Linked DNA regions of Homo sapiens: region 2 is linked to region 1. A link means that fine-mapping ties the variant in region 1 to the expression of a gene that starts in the linked region. Tissue or cell type: whole blood. Region 1 holds a variant in brackets; the other region holds the start of a gene. All regions are shown on one strand. Distances are from middle to middle.

Region 1 (8,105 bases):
TTTGCAGAAATAGAAAAAGCTATCCTAAAATTTATATGAAACCTCAAGGGACCCCGATTAACCAAACAATCCTGAAAAATAAGAATAAAGCTGGAGTTCTCTCACTTCTTGATTTCAAAAAATACATATGTTACAATAATCGAGAGAGTGAGGTACAAAGACAAACATATAAACCATTGGAATAGAATAAAAGTCCAGAAATAAAGTCTTGTATATATGTGTAAATGATTTTTGATGAGTGTGTCAGGATCGTTCAATGAGGAAAAGACAGTCTTTTTAAGAAATGATACTGGGAAAACTGGCTATCCACATGCAAAAGAATAAAGTTGGACCCTTACCTAACACCAAAAATAAAAATTAACTCAAAATGGATCTATGACCTAAATGTAGACCAAAAACTATAAAACTCTTAGAAGACAACATAGGGCAAAAACTTTATGACATCAGATTTGGCAATGATTTCGTCATTATTACACCAAAGGCATACATACGTAACAAAGGAAAAAATATACAAGTTGGACTTTATGAAAATTAAAAATAATTGTATATCAAAAGATACTCTCAACAGAGTAAAAAGACACCACACATAATAGGAGAAAATATTTGCAAGTCATCTATCTGATAAGGGATTAATGTACAGAATATATAGAACACTCTTCAAACAACAATAAAAAAAATCAAATTACCCAATTTAAAAATAGGCAAAGGACTTGAATGGACGTTTCTCCAAGATATACAAATGGTTAGTAAGCACATGAAAAGAGACTCAACTCTTTTTTGCTAGGGAAATGCAACCCAAGAATACAACACAGCACCACCTCACCCCCATTAGGGTGGCTTCTATGATCAGAAATCGGAATCCGTGGGCACTGTTGATGGGAATGGAAAATGGTCAGCCACTGTGGAAAACAGTACGGCAGTGCCTCAAAAACTTAAAAATGGAATTACCGTGTAATCTAATAATCTTATTTATTGGCGTATATGTACAGAAATTGAAAGAAGGGTCTTGAAGAGATATTCATACCCCCATATTCAGACTACTCTTATTCACAATAGCTGGACTGCAGAAGGAACCCAAGTGTCTGTTGATGTTGAATGGATACACAAAAGCTGGTTTATACATACAATAAAATATTATTCTAAAAAAGGAAGAAAATACCGAGATTGGCTACAACATGGATGAACCCTGAAGACATTATGCCAAGTGAAATAAGCCAGTCACACACACACACACACACACACACACACACAAAATACTATATGAATGTGGTTGCCAGGGAATGTGAGGTGGGAGGGGGAATGGGGAGTTACTGTTTAATGAGTATAGAGTTTCAATTTTGCAAGACTGAAAAAGTTTTGGAGATGGTTTGTGGTGATAGTTGCACAACAATACAAATGTACTTAATATCACTGAACTGTACACTTAAAAATGGTTAAGATAGTCAATGTTATGTTATATGTATTTTAATACAATTTTTAAATTGGAAAAAATGTCAGTAGGGGAGACAGTCACAGAAGTACAAACACTGTATGATTCCACTTTATATGGAACACCTGGAGTAGAAACAAAGTAGAATGATGTTTGCCAAGGGCTAGGAGGAGAAAGGAATGTGGAATTGTTGTTTAATGAATACTGTGATTCATTTTGGGAAGCTGAAAAAGTTCTGGAGATGGTGGTGATAGTTACACAACAATAGGAATGTACTAAGCTGAATACTTAAAGTTGCTAAAATGGTCAATTTTATGTTATGTATATTTTAAAAGCTTTCTTTTAAATCAACAGGGAGAAACCAGTTGATAGAGGGAGAAAGTGAATATACTAAAAAGAGGAGAAAATGATTAGTTACCCACAACATGATGGTGGTGGAGCCAAAGCGTAGTGGAGGATGAACCCCAGCAGGCGGGAGTCAGAGGGAAGAAGGTGCGAGTGGTGTAGCTGGAGGCAGTCAGTATTAGAAGGATGAGAGGGCTTCTATTTTCTCTGCAAAGTGGCATGCAAGGCCAAGTCAGAAGGAGGCTGAGGGGGAAAGAGGTTTTAGTAGAGAAGGTTTGAACAAAGAGATTTATAATTGTCATTGAGGTGAGTGGGACCGTCAGTAAACCTGATGAATGGAGTAGGATTTCCAGGCCATGCTGGGCTACTTTGAGGTTGAAGAGAATGAATTTAGAGAGAAACCAATCTCTGTTTGATACATGGATGGTAGGATCTGGAGGTGAGCAGGCAGCAGCAAAGAGGAGAGGGGAGAGGGGAGGAGCCCTCCCTGAGCACTCTCTTGGACTGCGGAGGCTACCTACTCTCTGAGCACTTCTTCGTGATGATTCAGTCTTCCTCACTGTGAAGAACGAAACCCCAGTCCTGCAAAGATTTGAAACTGTATTTAAGGCCAAAGTAAGGTTGCCTGGGAATTAAGAGTACTGGAGTCAGGCAGGCTTTGATCAGATCCCTCCCCCAACACTTCCTGTGTGAGTGACTTCAGCAAGTTGCTTTACTTTACCTTTCTGAGCCTCATTTCCCTTACTTGTAACACAGAAATATGAATAGTTACTATCCAGGGTTTTTTTTTAGGATCAAAGGAGTTACTATGTGTGGAGCATGTCACCCAGAGGCTGGTATGCAGCAAGTGCTTTGTAAATAGTAGCGATGGGCACTACTGAAACCTGAATGTCTGCCTCTGCCTGTTTGCGAATGACTCCACCTTCCCAAATCCCAACAGGGAAGGTGAGTCAGCTTGAGACCACTTGAGAGGCATCTAGCAGAAGGGAGGCAAAACTTCTGTTAAAGGATAATTTTTAGGGAAAAAAAGGTAAGATGATGACTCTCATACAGATATTAAAAATGAATTCATCATGAAGATTTTATTTTACTCGTATGATGGAACCAGGCAGATATTACAACTGGTTCAAAGGAAAAGTCAAAGCAACACAAATTTGGAGTAAAGGAGTTGAACTAGTTTTTCTGTGAGATAAGGCAGGGGGAGGGGAGAAATCAATTGAAACTCTCCTGGGCAGCATCCTGCCCAGTAGGCACATGTATTAGTTGCCTACAATTCACAAAGGGTTGCGAAATAGCTCCCGTGGAATCAGAATCTGACAGGGAGGAAGAGTGTGCTCAGAAAATGCATGGCTTTCTACTGAAGCAG[A/AT]TTTTTTTCCCATTACACTTCTAGATCTCTGTGCACCATTGTGCCAGGGCTGCGAGGAAGGTGGCCCACTTCCCGGGATACACTACCCACCCTCAAGAGAGCCTTTCCTGCTGCTTCTTAGGCAAGTCAGCTCTCTTTTCTCACCTCCTGTAAGCAACACTAAGTATCTGGCTGTTCCTTTCGTACTCGAGTCCTGGCCGCTCCATGACAGCACTTGTGGTGGTACTGAACTGTGATGGACACTTTCTATCATTGCCCTTTCTTACCTTGATATCCTAAAAAGCTGGTGGTCTGTCTTCTCTATCTTTTGTCCTGGTCAGTTATCCTAACTATTTTGTGTCTGTTTCTGTGGATTAGTAAACGGGGTCCCCACCCCCACTCCACAAGGAGAACATCTGGCACCCAGAAGTCACTGAGAGAATAGCTGTTGCTTTGGTAGAATTCTGCCTCTGAGTGGCTTGTTCTTTTCCCAGACGGAGAGGTCTCCTGACAGCAGCTCTCTTCTTTTTCTTTTTTTTTTTTTTTGAGACAGAGTTTTGCTCTTGCGCTCAGGCTGGAGTGCAGTGGTGCACTCTCGGCTCCCTGCTCTGCCTCCTGGGTTCAAGTGATTCCCCTGCCTCGGTCTCCCAAGTAGCTGAGATTACAGGCATGCACCACCATGCCCAGCTAATTTTTTGTATTTTTAGTAGAGACAGGGTTTTGCCATGTTTGCCAGACTAGTCTCAAACTCCTGACCTCAGGTGATCCACCTGCCTCAGCCTCCCAAAGTGCTGGGATTACAGGCATGAGCCACTGCGCCTGGCTTTAGCAGCTCTCTTCTAAAGCCATCTGGACCCACATTTGTTCAGCTCCCCTCCCTTGGCCATGATGAAGGCATGCAAAACAAAAAAGGCACTTTTCTTATTGAGAAGGTGGCTTTTTATAGAGAATGGTGTCATACTGTTAGGTTTCAGGCCAGCAGACCTAGTCAGGCATGTGACACTTCTGTGCCAGGTGTGGCTATGAGAGTCAACAGGAAAAATGATATATGTAAATGGACAGGTCTTTAAATAAATGCAGTTTTGACTATAAGAGTAAGAAGGTTTCTGTGAGACTCAACTCAGTACCTCCTGTACCCTGTGGGCCTGAGAGAGGAGACAATGGGACAAGAAGACCCAGTGGCTTCCTTGGAAGCTTTTGTGCTAGCTGGAGAGAGAAGACCTACTTCCTATATGCCTAGCAACAGTCCACACTGACTGGACTGCAACCAGGACATTTCCAGATTACTCAGTGGGGCTTATCTTGAAATAATAGTTGATGCCATTTGTTAAATATATTATATATACCATCTAAGGGTCTTACATGCCTTCTCTCATTTGATCTTCATGGCAAACCCTGTGAGGTATGACCACCAACCACCATTTTACCTCAGAACTCAGGCTCCCAGAGTTTAAGTTGCTCACAGGAGCCCAGAAAGTAAGCGACAGAGGTGGGATTTGGTTCTAGGTGTTTGCCACCAGCACTTTAAATCACCAAAGCTTTCTGGAAGCTCCAACTTTTCTTCTCAAGATACTGAAAGACAGGTATCTGGATGGGTTGGCAGGGCGGGTGGGAGGTGGGCGAGATTTCCATCAACAACGGGTCTAAAACCAGCGATGGTGAGCTGGGTGATTTTGATGGAACCCCTGCCATACAGTCTATTAATATCATAATTGGAGCTAAAATTTAATCATGATGGCAATCATGAGTTCTGGGGCTTCTTGATTTGGGCCAGCAGACACAGTCTCAGTCACTAGTTCTCCGAATCAGAGAAAGGATGCCTTCAGGCTGTGTCTTCACATGGCTTTTCCTCTGTGCGTGGTGGAAAGAGAGAGCTCTGCGGGTCTCTTCTTGTTGTAAGGACACTGGCCCCATTGGATTAGGGCCCCACCACATGACACATTTAATCCTAATTACCTCCCTCACAGCCCTATTTCCAAACAGGGTATTAGTCACATTAGGGATTAGGGCTTCAACATAGGAATTCTGGGGGCACACAATTCAGTCTATAACAGAGGGAAAACAGATTTGAGAAGAAAAAAGTCCAAAATATGCACAGTGGTAATATCTGAAGATGTGCGTGCGTGCGTGTGTGTGTGTGTGTGTGTGTGTGTGTGTTTCTATTCTTGCATTTTCTAACTGTCCCCAGTGAGTATTTGTTACTTTCTAACTGAGAAGGTTACTTTAAACAGTGTCTTGAGCAGCAGCACTCCATGCCCTGGTGTAGCCTTTTCCTGGCAGATGTTCCCCAGGGCTCTGCTGCTCTGCCAATGACTTATTCTCAGCATGAACTCCTCCCCTGCCCCCTAAGAGGATCTCCAAACCCAGGTCACACTCCCCCTGCAGGTAAGTACAGGCGTTTGAGAACAGCTTTATTCTTCCAGGAACAGCTGGTCCCCTCAGCAGGGCCTTACAAGGTGGTTATGTCTAAATAAGGCACCTGAGGCCAGGAGATGTGACATGGTCCATCTAATACCATGGAGTGAGTTAGACACAGAGCAGGACTGGAACCCATGCTTCCAATTCCCCATCCAGTTTTAAGGCAATCTTCTTTTCTTTCTTTCTTTCTTTTTTTTTTTTTTTTTTTTTTTTTTGGAGACAGAGTCTCTGTCACCCAGGCTGGAGTGCAGTGGTGCGATCTTGGCTCACTGCAACCTCTGCCTCCGGGGTTCAAGCGATTCTCCTGCCTCAGCCTTCTGAGTAGCTGAGATTTCAGGTGCCCGCCACCACGCCTGGCTAATTTTTGTATTTTTAGTAGAGACGAGGTTTTACTATGTTGGCCAGGGTGATCTCGAACTCCTGACCTCAAGTGATCTGCCCACCTCAGCTTCCCAAAGTGCTGGGATTACAGGTGTGAGCCACTGCACCTGGCAAGGCAACCTTTTTTTTTTTTTTTTTTTTTGGTAGAAAATCTTTGAACTTCATATAGATGGTGTTAATGTGGGTGAGTTCAGAGCCATGTGTAAAGTTCCAGGAGGGGAGTGCTTGCTGGCTTCTCCCTTATCCCTCAACCAGATCCCAGCCCCAGCCACTTTCTGTTTCTCTTCTCTGGATAAAACTATCATTCATCTTCACCTGTTTCTATTTTCATGGATTACTGTCTCATTCATCTCAAGTAGCTCAAGTGAATGGCTGTTTTTCCATTGGATACAGGAAGACTGAGGGTGACCTGACCCTCATGGTGTGCTTGCTTATTTGAATGTCTGATGGTTTTATGGGTGTAGTCCTGCTGGAGCAGAAAGAATATCTGTTAGGAGCCTGCCTCTGGGCTCTGGTTCTAACTGTGCCACAAACTCATCGTAGCCTTAGACAATTCTCTTGTCTCTCTGGGCCTCAGTTTACCCATCTGGAAAATGATGGGTCTGAATTTAATACCTTGAGTATCATCCAGCTGTGACATACTACAACTCAGGCAAGAAGCAAATTCTCCTGACACTCCATACTCCTATCCAGTGTTCTCTGACGTCCTTCCCCAAGAGCTGTGGTACCCTACCCTGCCCACATTATGTGAGGCATTATAGCACATAGGTTAGAAGTGTGGTCTCTGGGCCGGGTGTGGTGGCTCATGCCTGTAATCCCAACACTTTGGGAGGCCGAGGCAGGTGGATCACGAGGTCAGGAGATCAAGACCATCCTGGCTAACACAGTGAAACCCCATCTCTACTAAAAATACAAAAAATTAGCTGGGTGTGGTGGCACATGTCTGTCGTACCAGCTACTTGGGAGGCTGAGGCAGGAGAATCACTTGAACCTGGGTGGCGGAGGTTGCAGTGAGCCAAGATCGTGCCACTGCACTCCAGCCTGGGCAACAGAGCGAGACTCCATCTCAAAAAAAAAAAAAAAAAAGAAGTGTGGTCTCTGGAGCTAGACCTAAGAATCCAATTCAGACTCTCTTACTTACTGACTGTGTAATTTGGACAAGTTACTTAGCATTTAGCATCTCTATTTCTTTAATCATAAAATGAACATATTAACACTTACTTCCTAGGGCTGTTGTGAAGATAAACTGAGTTGAGGTATGACAGTACCTAGCATGTAGTAAGCATCATTAAATGGTGTCTGTTGTTTTCACATATTGTAAAGAAGAAAGCTTCGTGCATCTCTTGGAATTTCTGAGGACGGTGAAGCCACAGCTGGGAAAGTCTCAGGGAGCCAGGAGTTGCTGGCCTCCTGCTTTGCATACTCAAAATTGCTGGAAAGGGGCTATAGCAGGGGGAGACATTTTTTAAAAATCCCAGTTATTGCTATTCCTCATGAGTATGTATATATCACCTGGCATCAGTACTCTGCATAGAAAGAAGCATAGCTAAAGAAAAGACACTTTGCTTTTAATATAACAGCTGTTTTCAGGGGAATAGGGTGGATGAGGATAGGGAGTACTGGCCCTCTGTCCTCAGGCCTCCCTGTCACCAGCTCAGTCACGTCTATCTTACAAATCCCCATCTAGCAGGAAGCCTGCTCTGCCCTTGGACTATAGACCTGAAGGGCTGTTGTTAAGTTACAACGTTCCCAGTGGAAGGAGGACAGTACTTAAAAGTTACAAGATGTGGGTTCTGTTCTTAGTTCTTATGGCCTGTCAGCCAGGGAACTCCTGGCCAGTAGTCTCATCCTTGAACTTCTTCTTTTTTTTTTTTTTTCTCAAGACGGAGTCTCGCTCTGTCGCCAGGCTAGAGTGCAGTGGCACGATCTTGGCTCACTGCAACCTCTGCCTCCTGAGTTCAAGCTATTCGCCTGCCTCAGCCTTCCAAGTAGCTGGGATTACAGGTGCTTGCCACCACGCCTGGCTAATTTTTGTATTTTTGGTAGAGACAGGGTTTCGCCATGTTGGCCAGGCTGGTCTTGAACTCCTGACCTCAAGTGAGCCCAGCCCTCATCCTTGAACTTCAAATTTCCACCCCACCTTACTCCCACAGGCATATACCAGTTGTTCCTTTTTCTCTGTTCTTA
Region 2 (8,105 bases), 130 kb before region 1:
CTTTTATTTTACTTTTTAATATTTATTTATTTATTTACTTATTTTTGAGAGAGAGTCTTGCTCTGTTTGCCCAGGCTGGAGTGCAGTGGCGTGATCTTGGCTCACTGCAACCTCTGCCTTCCGGGTTCAAGCAATTCTCCTGCCTCAGCCTCCCGAGTACCTGGGACTACAGGTGACTGCCACCACGCCCAACTAATTTTTTGTATTTTTAGTAGAGATGAAGTTTCACCATGTTGACCAGGCTAGTCTCGAACTCCCGACCTCAGGTGATCTGCCCGTCTCAATCTCCCAAAATGCTGGGATTACAGGTGTGAGCCACCATGCCTGGTCCGGGTCTCTTTTATAAGGGCGCTAGTTCCATTTGTGAGGGCTCTGCCCTCATAACCTAATCACCTCCTCCAGATGCCCCACCTCCAAATACCATCATCTTGGGGGTTAGGAATTCATTGTACGAATTTTGGGGGGATACAACATGCAGACCATAGCAGGAAGCTGTGGGTGGAGGGCCCAGAACTGAGATACTGTCCAGAGGGAAAGTGGGTATCTGTACTTCTCAAAAAAACCAAAACCAACCTGTCAAGGCAGGGACCCCAGAGAAAATGGGAGGAGAAGCCTCACATGTATAGACTGGGAGGACAGGATCATCTCCAAAGTAATGCCCCAGCCTCTGCCTCTCACTTATAGGTCAGAGGGTCCTAAGTGATAAGAGAGAACCTTGGTGGAGGCTGCTCCACAATGGCCCCCATCCTGGAATTTTACCAGGAGCACCCTTGCTTGCCCACTCATCTGTCTCAGACGCCCAGGAAATTTTTGCACGTGTCATATCATCTGTGCTTATCTCAGTGTTGAGATAACCTTTTCCCTTGTTTTCTCCTTAATTTGGTTTTCCAGTTCTCTGCAAAAGAGAACTGCGGAGTGGGGACTGGACAACCTCTGAAAGAGCGCCTTCTGCTTTTGTGGAGTGCAGTGGCGTGATCTCGGCTCACTGTAAGCTCCGCCTCCTGGGTTCACACCATTCTCCGGCCTCAGCCTCCTGAGTGGCTGGGACTACAGGCGCCCGTCATCGCGTGCCCGCCTAATTTTGTTTTTGTATTTTTAGTAGAGATGGAGTTTCACCATGTTAGCCAGGATGGTCTTGATCTCCTGACCTGTGATCCGCCCGCCTCGGCCTCCCAAGGTGCTGGGATTACAGGCGTGAGCCACCACGCCCAGCCCCGGTTAATTTGTTTTGTGTTTTTAGTAGAGACAAGGTTCCACTGTGCTAGCCAAGATGGTCTTGGTCTCCTGACCTCATGATCCGCCCGCCTAGGCCTCCCAAAGTGCTGGGATTACAGGCGTGAACCACCGCACCAGGCTGTTCTTAGTTCTTAAGTAATGTTGACATATGGGTGATGATGAAGGAGATGATTAAAGCTTTCAAAGAAAGTGGAAGAATGTGTCAAATTCTCTCTTCACTTCCTAGATGACTTCAGTTTCCTAATCCATAAAATAGGACTAAGACCATTACTTATCTGATGAAAAGGAGAGACAATGTAATAAATAAGGTGCTTTGAATCCTGTATTAGTCCATTGTCACACTACTGAGAAAATTATAAATTACCTGAGACTGGGTAATTTATAAACAAAAGAGGTTTAATTGACTCACAGTTCCATATGGCTGGGGAGGCCTCAGGAAACTTATAATCATGGTGGAAGGTGAAGGGGAAGCAGGGCACATCTTACATGGCGGCAGGTGAGAGAGAGAATGCAGGGGAAATGCCAGACACTTATCAAACAACCAGATCCCGTGAGAGCTCCCTATCACAAAAACATCATGGGGGAAACCGCCCCCCACGATCCAATCACCTCCCAGGAGGTCCCTCCCCTGACACATGTGGATTACAATTCAAGATGAGATTTTTGGGTGGGGACACAGAGCCAAACCATGTCAGATCTCCAAATGGTAGCTATTATTTAGATGTCCTTTTCTTCTGTCTTGTTACAGTCACTGACACAGTTCAGGCTCTTATTATATCTCCATTGATGTCAGCTTCCAATCTAGTCTCTTGCATTCTCTGCTTCTGCCATCTATTTTCCAGTGTGGTGCCAGAGGAATCCTTGTAAAATACAAAGATGCATGTCATGCTACTGCACAGAATCTTTTAATAGCCTCCTTTTTTTTTTTCCCTTTTTCGAATAGGGCCTAAAATCTTCAATGTAGCATCCTTCCAGAAATAGTCTTCTGAACTTGGCTGCTTCTATTCATTCACGCATACATACATTTTACTGTCAGGAGCACCTTCTATATGCCAAACACTAAGCTACGTGTTTCACGTAGGTCATTTCACAGGATCCTGAAAACAACGCTTTCCTTAATATCTCCATTTTGCAGAAGAGGAAAGGGAGGCTCACAGGATGTGGAACTCACCCAAGAAGGCACAGCGAGTTGGTCATAAAGATTTGAATTCACTCTGGCTGGCACTCCCTTCAATTGGAGCTCTTTGTACTGAGCAAAAATGCCTCAGGGGCAGCAGGGAAGGGAATGACAGTATCAGCAGAAGGGAGCCAGGATCAGGACAGGGAGGAAGCAGTGTTTGGAAGAAGGGTGCTGGGGACAGGGTGCGGATGTAACTTCCCTTTCCAAGGTTGGTGATGTGGGGTAGGCACCTCATTTGGAGACAGAACTCTGGGCCTGGGCTTCAGGCACTTTAAGTGTGCACTGGACTTTGTGTTCCCAGAGGACCCCCAAACCTTCCAGTATCTCCTTCCTTTCCCCTTTCCCACCCAGCACACAGCCTGGTGCCTAGTGTGCACTCAGTAGACAACTGGGATATGACTATTGCCTCTGGTAGTCACATCCTCTCTTTGGGCTATGGGAGGCTGGACTGGAGGCCTTAAAGGCCCCTTCCGCCCTCCTGTTGGGCAGTTTTTCTTTCTTAGGGAAATCGCCTTGGGGCTATCGGGGATGGTCAGTACGCAGCTTGGTTAATCCTCTTTCCTTCCCCAGCAGCCCCACCGTCGTCCGGGTGAAAAGAAAGAACCTCGCTCCCTTCACCATCCAGGCTGAGGCTTCAGTCTTTCAGCCTGCAGCTTGGGGTGGAAGCCTCTGGGTGCAGGGGTTCGAGGACGCTCCTCTCCTTCTGTATTTGCCATTTGAGAGCGCCCAGTAGGAGTCATGCCTCAATGTTAGGAGGTTAATGCCAAACGCAGTGAAAGATTTTGTTCTTTCCTATTCTAGATAAGAGCAACACGAGTCTTCGGAGAGGTTAAGCGACTTCCTCAGGGTCTCGCAGTCAGCCGGTAGCAGAGACCGGGTGTACAGCACCCGCATGTTAGGACCAAAAGCCGGACACTGCTGGATTGACCCCTCGCGGCCAAGCGGGGAAGAGGCATTTAGGGGTCCTTGCGCAGCCGCGTGGCCCCTCCCACTCGGCCCTCGATCCACCCTCCTTGAGAGCAGGCAGGATTCTAGCATCACCCAGTGCCTTCATCAAGAGTCTTTAACCCCAAGCCCGCTCGCTAGCGACCTCCAGGCCGGTTTGGGGCGCGGTGTGGCCGGTGGCGAGAGGTGGAGTGGGGGCGGAGACCGACCCAGTCTTCGCAACTCTATTTGCATACGGAGGCGACTCGCTTCCTTCCCGCCCCTCCGCCGCGCTCTTCTTCCTTCCTTCTCCAGTCCCTTCCACTGTGCGTCTTCTGTCCCCCGTTCTTCCCCAGCGGACCCCTCTTTCGAGACTCCCTAGTGGGGTCCCCAGCTCCCGGGCGATCCTGCCCTTGCCGAGCGCGTTTTCTGGAGTCACCTGGGGGAGGGGAGTCCTGGGCAGGGCCGGGCTGGGGAAGACGCCTGGGGCACTGCCCGGCGTTAACAAAGGGAGCCGATACCGACCGGCGTGGGCGCGGAGCGGGCGGCCGCCACCGAGCGTGCTGAGCAACCGCAGCCTCCGCGGCCGAGAGTGCAGCGAGTGAGTAGGGGGTGCGGTGGGCGGCGGCGCGGCCCGGGCTATCCCGGGAGGAGTGTGATGCAAAGGGGCGCGGGAGGATAGCGGAGGCGCGGGGCCCGCGGCGCGCGTAGGGCGCAGGGAATCTCTCTCCAGCTCCGCCTCAGCTGCCTTGGCTCCGGGGCTGGCCGCCTTTTGGTTGGGGGTGTGTGCATTTTTGTCAGGGCCAAAGGGCCACCCTGGCTTCTCTCTGGCTCCGCGAGCCTGCGGATCCACAACAAACCCACGTGCGCACAGCCCCGGGGAACACGGATTTCTCCACGGCACCGTCAGTATGGGGTGGGGTGGCGTGGGGGCATTGCGCCTTGCAGAGTCTGGGTTTACGGATCGACAAATTGAGGCCCGCGGCAGCGGAGGGGGCACAGGCACCATAACAAACGCACGTGCGCCCTGCCCGGAGAGCTGGACGCACTGCATACCCTTAGGGGCCGCCCTGCGGTGCCGGGCCATTGTCTCAGCCTCGGGGGAGGGAGTGGCTCTAGAGGCGCCACTTGCTGGAAGAGGGCGAGAGAGACATTTAAAAGGTACCGCTTGGGCATCAGACTAAACTGCCAGACTTAAAAAGGGAAACCAAAACAAGAAAGCAGCTACAAAAAGGTTACTCCAGGCTGAGTCGGTCCCCGGCCGTGGCGCATTCTTTTGGGTGAAGTGGACCACCCCTCACCTTCACCTCCTGGAGGTCTCTTAGAGATGTGGGTTGGGTTAAGGGTCTAAGGGTGCCCCTCAAAAAAAGAGAGTGCTGGGTGCACTATTGTCCCCGCACTCCGGCGATTGCCTCTGTGGGGATATTTTGGTCGCCTCCTCAGCCTGCGGGAAGAATGTACGAGTCGCCCAGTGCGGTCTTGCTCTTTGCCTCTGAGGCCCGTGTCCGTGTGCCCAGACACCCCAGATGTCACTAGCCCCTTTTGGCTTGTTAATGCATTTTCGCAAGCAAGGCCAGCCGAGACCTCGTATTCTAGCTGGGGACGTACAATTTTCAGTTCTGAGTTTATTTGAAAGAAATTCCGAGGTCCGGAAAAAGAGAACTCTTGTTTGTTTTGCTTTTTCTTTGCTTACATATGCTCAGCTCAGCTTTGCAGATGTTAATCGGACACGATCTGCAGCGGGGAGATGGTTTCGCGGTGAATTGGTCTCTGAGGCGATGGTGTTGGTGCAGGTTGTGGGCGTGCAGTGTGAGCAGGAATGGAGGCGCCGCCGCCCCAGTGTGTGCCTGCTGAGCGGGCGGGCTGCTGCCTCACCTTGGCTAGTGTGGCTGAAGATTAACCTGTCCCCGGGGGGGGAACTGGAGAGCCTCCAATCCTATTCCGCTGTTATTGAAAAGGTCTAGAGAGCATCTAGGGAGCCTTCTCATTTTACAGGCAGGAAGCTGAGGCCGGAGAGTTCAGCCACTTGTCCAAGTTTAAACCGGGTGAAACGGGCCACAGAGAGAACACTTGAGTGTGGGTCTCCCAACTCCCACTGCATCGCTCAGCGGGCAACTAAAGGCAAAACCGGGATTCTGTGATTGGCCTAAAAGGCAGTGGCCTTAGGCAGAATAGGGTGAAACAAAGAGTAATTCAAATAGAAAGCTGCACCCTTCCATTATCCCTTTCAAGAATTCTTTATTCTGTTGAGAAAAAATAGATTTAGTAATTCCTTACTCTCCTTCAAGCCTTTCAAAAGCTTAGTTATTTTTCTCTCCTGGCTGCCCCTTCCCCTCAAATTGGAATAAGGCCAGCTACGGAGACTCAGATGTTTTGCCTCTCATCCTTGTGCCAGGAGGCCTTTGTTTGGGCAAAAGCATGGGCTGTTGACATCAGCCCCACGGGGAAGAAAGTGTGTCTTAGCAAGCTACTCCTGAGCCACTTGTGGGAGAACAAAGCATTGTTTTCACTGATCTTATTAAAGTTACTTTTTTTTTAACGAGAGTCCCATGGAAGTAGCTGCTTATTTTTGTATTTGGCAGAGAAGTAGGAAAACCAAAAAAACACTGAGAAGCCGGATTTCCCCAAAGTTAACATGTTGTTTTGCACTGTGCCTGTTATCTCCTAGTTACACTTGTTTCTTTTCCTTAGAGTTTCCAGCGTGTTTCACTTTCAATGTGATTCTGGTAGCAACAGGAGGCAGCTGGATGCCTAGGCAGATAGGGTCAGGTACCCGGTGAAACCCCCACCTCCAGGCCAAAGACAGTTTAAAGCCTGAAAGCCAAGCTACGAGTTAAATCCTCAGACCAGAGTGAGAACTTGTTTGGCGTGCTTTCCCCTAATTGATTCCTACATTTCGCCTGTTTTACATATACCCACTTTTTCCTAATTGGTTTTCTACGCTGCCGTGCCCACCTTTGAGTGGTGTCTTTGCTTTCATCTTTTTTGCATACTCACAAACCGGTCAGCATGCACTCCCTATTCTGAGTCCATAAAAGGCCCCTGACCCAGCCACATTGGGGAACTTTTCCGTCTTCAGGTAGGGGACCAACCCGGTGTCCCCTCTCTGCTGAAAGCTGTTTTCAACACTCAATAAAATTCTTATCTGCCTTCCTCTCCCTTCAATGTCCAGTGTATCCTCATTATCCTTTGGTGTGGTGCACGAGCTCGGAACCACCGAACGCGGGTACAAGCTATAATACAGTGAGCTGGGACACACCTGCATGGCCGAGCGAGCACAGGTGGGGCATTGCTGGCCCGAGGACCAAGAAGAAAAATCCTACATCAATTCCTCTTGGCACTGCAGTATAGTTTTCTCACCAGGACGCTGACCCTGTAAGGAACTTCAGAAATCATGTGACTGGACCCTTTTACTTTCCAGATGGGAAAAGTGAGGCCTAGAGAAGAGAAATTGCTTGCCTAATGATACACAACAATGCGTGGTCTACTTTTAGTGCACCTTTTTGCGTAAAAGGGAAATGGTTGCATCAAACCAGTAGTTGTTGGTACTCCAGAGAAAAGCCAAAGTTATGGTTGTTATAACAACACCCTTTAAGTCAGAGAACCAATTCCTTATGGATTTAAATAGGTTTGGTTATTAAGCAAAGCCAGGGATCCCAGTAGTAGGTATGCTGAATAGTGCAATTATCTCTGGGGATCAGCTTTCTTTAGTGTTTGCTGAACGGTTCACTTTACTCTTGTGCTGGGTTCCTCCATGTCTCTGTCTTGTGCTTCCCCATTTAGGGGCTGCTTTGTATGAAATCATAAGGCAAGAGGCAGTGAGAAGACAGAAGAGAGAGGCGCCACTTAGCTGTTCATGCTACTTAACCTCTTGGGCTCCAGTTTCCTTCTTTGTACAGTGAGGGTTCTCCTTGCCCAGTCTCTGCACAGGCTGTTCCAGCGGAGCGGAAGATGCTCAGGCCATAGGAGGGGTTTGGGGTCATCTTCCTGTCTCTAGTATTACTTTAAAACCAGCAGGCTGGGCCAGGTGTGGTGGCTCACTCCAGTAATCACAGCACTTCAGGAGGCCGAGGAGGGAAGAGTTCGAATTCCTTGAGCTCAGGAGTTTGAGACCAGCCTGAGCAACATAGTGAGACTACCTCCCCCACCGCCATCTCTACAAAAAATAAAAGAACAAAATTAGCTGGGCATGGTGGCGTACTCCTGTGGTCCCAGCTACCTGGGAGGCTGAGACAGGAGAATCGCTGGAGCCTGGGAGGTGGAGGTTGCAGTGAGCCGCGATCTCACCACTGTACTCCAGCCTGGGGACATAGCGAGACCCTGTCTCAAAAACAGAAAATAAAACAAAACAACAACAACAGAAAACCAGCAGGCTGCCTCTGCGTTGTGTAAAGTGAGGGGAGTAAGGCGTATGAATCTCCTGGGGTTGTTGAGGGCATTAAGTCACATGATGCATTCTTATGACTGGTCAGACCTCTTGGCAGGCTTGAGTGCTTACCAGCTTTTAAAAAATTTTATTTATTTATGTATTTATTTATTTATTTATTTTTTCAGATGGCGTCTCGCTCTGTCACCCAGGCTGGAGTGCAGTGGTGCAATCTCGGCTCACTGCAAGCTCCGCCTCCCGGGTTCACGCCATTCTCCTGCCTCAGCCTCCCGAGTAGCTGGGACTACAGGTGCCCGCCACCACGCCCGGCTAATTTTTGTATGTTTAGTAAAGACGGGGTTTCACCTTGTTAGCCAGGATGGTCTCGATCAAAAATTT

What was found. PIP is the estimated chance that this variant, and not a neighbour inherited with it, causes the effect.
Region 2: ST6GAL1 starts here. The variant in region 1 is fine-mapped to the expression of ST6GAL1 in whole blood (TOPMed, PIP above 0.99).

What each region holds. Positions count from the first base shown.
Region 1 is chr3:187,061,356-187,069,460 of GRCh38, forward strand. The region is part of intron 5 of ST6GAL1 (ST6 beta-galactoside alpha-2,6-sialyltransferase 1); the gene reads left to right. Among named protein-coding and RNA genes, the nearest start is that of RPL39L, 74 kb to the right of the region's middle. RefSeq lists an enhancer at 4,279-4,458 and a silencer at 5,406-5,455. The variant A/AT (reference allele first, on the strand shown) is at 3,141.
Region 2 is chr3:186,926,894-186,934,998 of GRCh38, forward strand. ST6GAL1 (ST6 beta-galactoside alpha-2,6-sialyltransferase 1) reads left to right here and starts at 3,633. Exons shown (of 8, transcript NM_173216.2): 1 at 3,633-3,941. RefSeq lists enhancers at 3,248-3,856, 5,950-5,999, 6,020-6,079 and silencers at 3,544-3,623, 3,864-4,053.